Regions from separate parts of the Homo sapiens genome. Here region 2 is linked to region 1. The links come from fine-mapping of genetic effects on gene expression. Tissue or cell type: cerebellum. Region 1 holds a variant in brackets; the other region holds the start of a gene. All regions are shown on one strand. Distances are from middle to middle.

What was found. PIP is the estimated chance that this variant, and not a neighbour inherited with it, causes the effect.
Region 2: it holds the start of CAMKK1, and the variant in region 1 is fine-mapped to the expression of CAMKK1 in cerebellum (GTEx, PIP 0.99). The same link has a PIP of 0.9 or more in cerebellar hemisphere.

What each region holds. Positions count from the first base shown.
Region 1 is chr17:3,861,118-3,863,798 of GRCh38, reverse strand. It overlaps CAMKK1 (calcium/calmodulin dependent protein kinase kinase 1), which reads left to right. Exons shown (of 16, transcript NM_032294.3): 16 at 1,516-2,681. The coding sequence ends at 1,588. Among named protein-coding and RNA genes, the nearest start is that of NCBP3, 16 kb to the right of the region's middle. The variant G/C (reference allele first, on the strand shown) is at 1,494.
Region 2 is chr17:3,891,793-3,894,473 of GRCh38, reverse strand. It overlaps CAMKK1 (calcium/calmodulin dependent protein kinase kinase 1), which reads left to right and starts at 1,421. Exons shown (of 16, transcript NM_032294.3): 1 at 1,421-1,535. RefSeq lists silencers at 975-1,514, 1,545-1,724, 1,865-2,114.

The sequences.
Region 1 (2,681 bases):
AAGATTGGGCTTAATACTTTCCAGCTATAAAATTCTAGAATTCTGTGACCCAAGTTTAATTTGGGGTAGAGCTTTTTAAAAAAAAAATAGAGATGGAGTCTTGCCATGTTGCCCAGGCTGGACTTAAACTCCTGGCCTCAAGCCATTTGCCCACCTTGGCCTCCGAAAGTGCCAGGTGATTACAGGCATGAGCCACCACACCCAGCCTCCACGTTTAACTTTGAAAGAAGATTTTACTTCATCATCAAGTCCCAATATTTATCCTTGATAGACTGCTTTGGTTTTTTGTTTGTTTGTTTTGAGATGGAGTTTCACTCTTGTTGCCCAGGCTGGAGTGCAGTGGCGCAAACTCAACTCACTGCAGTCTCCGCCTCTCACATTCAAGCAGTTCTCTTGCCTCAGCCTCCCAAGTAGCTGGGATTACAGGTGCATGCCACCACCACACCGGCTAATTTTTGTATTTTTATTAGAGACGGGATTTCACCATTTTGGCCAGGCTGGTCTCAAACTCCTGACCTCAGGTAATCTGCCCACCTCAGCCTCCCAAAGTGCTGGGATTACAGGCGTGAGCCACTGTGCCCGGCCATAGAGTTTTTTATACTTTGGGATAATTGTAGAAACTCAGTAGTAGAGTTAAGTGGAGTTGGTCCTTTTTAAAGATATCAAAACCCATTTACTGGTTATTTTAAAAAGAGACATTTTGGGAGGAAAACTAGATATAGAAATCTGTTGAATATGTGACAGAATCCCAAGACTGATAGATGGACTCTGCCCTGTGAACAAGGCAAAGAAAAATGCAAAATGAAAGCCTCTCTACCCAGATCTGCTGGGGGATGACTGAGGTCAACACAGAAGGCCCTCAGGCCGGGCACGGTGGCTCACGCCTGCAATCCCAACACTTTAGGAGGCTGAGGTGGATGGATCGCTTGAGCCCAGGAGTTTGAGACCAGCCTGGGCAACATGGTGAAACCCTGTTTTTATAGAGATAAAAAAATACAAAAATTAGCTGGGCGTGGTGGCATGTGCCTGTAGTCTCAGCTACTCAGGAGGCTGAGGTGGGAGGATCGCTTGAGCCTGGAAGGCAGAGGTTGCAATGAGCTGAGATTGCACCACTGCACTGCAGCCTGCACGACAGAGCGAGACGCTGTCTCAAAACAACAACAAAACCACACACACAGAGAGAAGGCCCTTGATTAGGCTGATAGTTGGAGGATGTAGGGAAGTCAGCTGGGTCAGACTGTGAGCAGCTCCAGAGGCCGTGCTGGGAGGTTTAGACTTCATCTCTGGTCAATGGGGGGCCACGGAGGCGTTGCGGGCTGAGACTGGGGGCTGAGAGACCGGCAAGGAGCAACTGCCGTGATGTAGGGAGGCCAGAGGGAGGCCAAGCTTGGGGCAGTGGGTGAAGGGGGCTTTGAGAGATGTGGGATTCAGATTCCTGTGTGTGTGAGGGAGAGTGTCTCCCTGAGTGCATATTCTGACCCTGAGGTCCCTCT[G/C]TCCCTGGTGTCCCCTGAACAGGAAAGAAGGGTTTGGTGAAGGGGGCAAGAGCCCAGAGCTCCCCGGCGTCCAGGAAGACGAGGCTGCATCCTGAGCCCCTGCATGCACCCAGGGCCACCCGGCAGCACACTCATCCCGCGCCTCCAGAGGCCCACCCCTCATGCAACAGCCGCCCCCGCAGGCAGGGGGCTGGGGACTGCAGCCCCACTCCCGCCCCTCCCCCATCGTGCTGCATGACCTCCACGCACGCACGTCCAGGGACAGACTGGAATGTATGTCATTTGGGGTCTTGGGGGCAGGGCTCCCACGAGGCCATCCTCCTCTTCTTGGACCTCCTTGGCCTGACCCATTCTGTGGGGAAACCGGGTGCCCATGGAGCCTCAGAAATGCCACCCGGCTGGTTGGCATGGCCTGGGGCAGGAGGCAGAGGCAGGAGACCAAGATGGCAGGTGGAGGCCAGGCTTACCACAACGGAAGAGACCTCCCGCTGGGGCCGGGCAGGCCTGGCTCAGCTGCCACAGGCATATGGTGGAGAGGGGGGTACCCTGCCCACCTTGGGGTGGTGGCACCAGAGCTCTTGTCTATTCAGACGCTGGTATGGGGGCTCGGACCCCTCACTGGGGACAGGGCCAGTGTTGGAGAATTCTGATTCCTTTTTTGTTGTCTTTTACTTTTGTTTTTAACCTGGGGGTTCGGGGAGAGGCCCTGCTTGGGAACATCTCACGAGCTTTCCTACATCTTCCGTGGTTCCCAGCACAGCCCAAGATTATTTGGCAGCCAAGTGGATGGAACTAACTTTCCTGGACTGTGTTTCGCATTCGGCGTTATCTGGAAAGTGGACTGAACGGAATCAAGCTCTGAGCAGAGGCCTGAAGCGGAAGCACCACATCGTCCCTGCCCATCTCACTCTCTCCCTTGATGATGCCCCTAGAGCTGAGGCTGGAGAAGACACCAGGGCTGACTTTGACCGAGGGCCATGGACGCGACAGGCCTGTGGCCCTGCGCATGCTGAAATAACTGGAACCCAGCCTCTCCTCCTACACCGGCCTACCCATCTGGGCCCAAGAGCTGCACTCACACTCCTACAACGAAGGACAAACTGTCCAGGTCGGAGGGATCACGAGACACAGAACCTGGAGGGGTGTGCACGCTGGCAGGTGGCCTCTGCGGCAATTGCCTCACCCTGA
Region 2 (2,681 bases), 31 kb before region 1:
CTGGTGCAGACCCTCTGCCCTCTTCTTCATCCTTTTCTCCACTCCACTGCCTGGAATGCGTTATGTGATTGCTGGAGCTCTAGCTGGTATCCTGAACCATGAGGTCAAAAGCCACACTCAAGTTGCTGGAATTATTCATTCAACAACATCCACTGAGCACCTGTGCCATGCGACAGGCTGTGTGCTGGACGAATCAGGCACAGTGCTTGCCATCCAGGAGCTCCCAGTCCCAATGAGGAACCAGCAGGTAAACAGATGCCAGGTACAAGGAAGTACCTGGGTGGGGCCACTAACCCATGCTGGAAGTGGGGAGGTCATGGAGAAGGTTTCCAGGCAGAAGTAGGATTGAATTGAACCCTGAAAGACGAGTAGGCGTTAAACAGGCAGGTGGCTGGGAGTAAGGCTATACAGGGCTTGATTAGACCTATTCTCACGGTGAGCCATAGAAAATGCCTCTCGGTGGACTTGTGTTCCTGAAAACTTGCTCTGGGTGCCAGGGAGAGAAAGGCTAGTAGGAGGTGAGACTGGATGGGGCTGGAGGCCAGGGAGGAGGCTGCTGCAGCAATCAGGGACAAGATGGTGGTAGCCTGAGCTAAGGGAGGGGAAGTGGGGTGGAGAGGAGTGGGCCGATTCCAGGGATAGTTAAGAGGCAGTATGGCAGGGCCTGGAGATGGACTGGTTGGAGCAGGAAACAGGGAGGCAGCAGGTGACTCCCAGGCTCCTGGCTCCACTTCGAGACAGGGACGCAGGAGGTTAGATTTGGGGGAAGGATATGGGGCAAGTGGTGGTGCCAGAGGATTCACACGCGGAGGCGTTAGGGGAAGAGGTGGCGGCAGAGTCCCCAGGAACAGCCACAGCGAAGGTCACCTCACTGTCCTGCTGAGTTCCCTCTACTCCCTCGGCCCTCGCTAGGCCATTCCTGTCGCCGGCTCACCGAGCAAGCACTTCACTCTGTGCTAAGCCACCTCTCGGCCTCTCTGCCCCCGCCCCGCAGAAGCTACACTCCTGGGCCTGCCATTCAAGGCCTTCCTCCCCGGGCCTCGCCCCTCCCTCGCACGCACCGCGCCTCGCCCGGGAGGGAGGGGCGCTCTGGCTCCTGCAGGCCGGGATGGGGGCGCAAAGGGTTTGGCGGGGAAGCACGGTCCCCTGCAGGCCCAGGAGAAGGGCCCACGCCGCGGCCGGGAGGGACTTCGGGGACCCCAGGACGCCGGGGGCGTGGCGAGGTCGGCCCCGCCGCAGGGGAGGGAGGGCCCCTACCGCGCCGCCCACCGCGGTCCCTTAGTCCAGGAGGGGGCGGGAGTCCCGGGCTCCGATTGGGCGGCGCTGGCGGGGCCGTTCGCTCCGACCAATGAGCGCCGGCCGGGCGCGGCGGTGGGCGGGGCAGCGAGCGCTGCCCGGAGCCGCGGCGCCCGCGGGCTGAGCTCGGCGATCTGGGCCCCAGCGAGGCGGTGGGGCGGGGCGGGGCGGGGCGGGGCGCGCAGCAGGAGCGAGTGGGGCCGCCCGCCGGGCCGCGGACACTGTCGCCCGGCGCCCAGGTAGGGATCGGCGGGGCGGGGACGCGGGCGAGGAGCAGGAGGACGAACGCCTTAACACCTGCCCCGAGCCTGCAAGGGAGAGGCGGGGGGGGTCTGCCAGGCCGCGTCTACGAGGGAGCTGGGATCTGGTCAGGGCGGGGATCCTTCCCCTTCTGTCTGCGGGGCCGGGTCTGCGGGGTGCCTCGCGGAGTCTGCTCGGGTCTGCGCCGGCCGCCGGGACCGCATCGCCGCGGGTGCCCCGCCGTCTGCGTTCTTCCCCGCTTCTGTCTGCGGACCGCATCCATCCCCGGTGCACTGTCCCCCGCGCCCGGCTCCTGGTGGAGGCCACGTCTGTGCGGAGTGGGCCCGGCCCGGGGCACCCACGTGCGGTTCTCCGCGGAGCGCTCCTCCCACGGCCCGCCGGAGCGTCTTCCTGCAGGAGCCGGGGGCGGGGTGGGAGATGAATGGGGCGGCGGCGGCGCGCGGCTCAGGCTGCGCAGGGTCCTGCCTTGGCTGGGGCGAGAGGGGGCGGCAGAGGCGGGCGCTGCGGCTTCGGGGCCCGGGAGGCGCAGGGCTGGTGGCTGGGGGGGTGTCCACGTGCGCAGGGACCTGCGTGTGCTGTTTGGAGGCGGGTGTGCGTGTGTCACGTGGACGCGGGAGTGTGCCTGTGTCTGCGTGGGGGGTGCAGGACAGGATGGAGTGGTGTGTGAGGGCGGGTCACGCGGACACGGGCGTGTGCCTGTCAGGGGAGGGGGTGTGCTCAAGTCTTGGCGTTGCAGGGCTGTGCAGAGAAGGCTGTGTCACAGGCCACAGGACCGGGCCTTGGTGGTGTCCGCAGGGCGGGCACAGGAGTGTGGGAGGGGCACACAGCCTGTGCGCGCTGGAGGATCCCAGGGAAGTGGCGCTGGCCTCCCCAAGCCCTGCCCTCTTTCCTCCAGTACATACAAATTGACCCCCCACTGCGTCCCAGGCGCACACACTCTGGGGACCCTTCGCCTCTTCCTCGGTCTCCCACCGTCAGTCCTCACAGCAGCCATGGGAGTCGTTTTAAACCTCACCTAACCGAGGCACTCCCCTGCTCACAACCTCCCCCTGGCTTTGGGGGCCTCCTGGGCTCTGTCCACCAAGCTCTCCCCACCCCCAAACCAAGCCCGGAGTCCCAGCCAG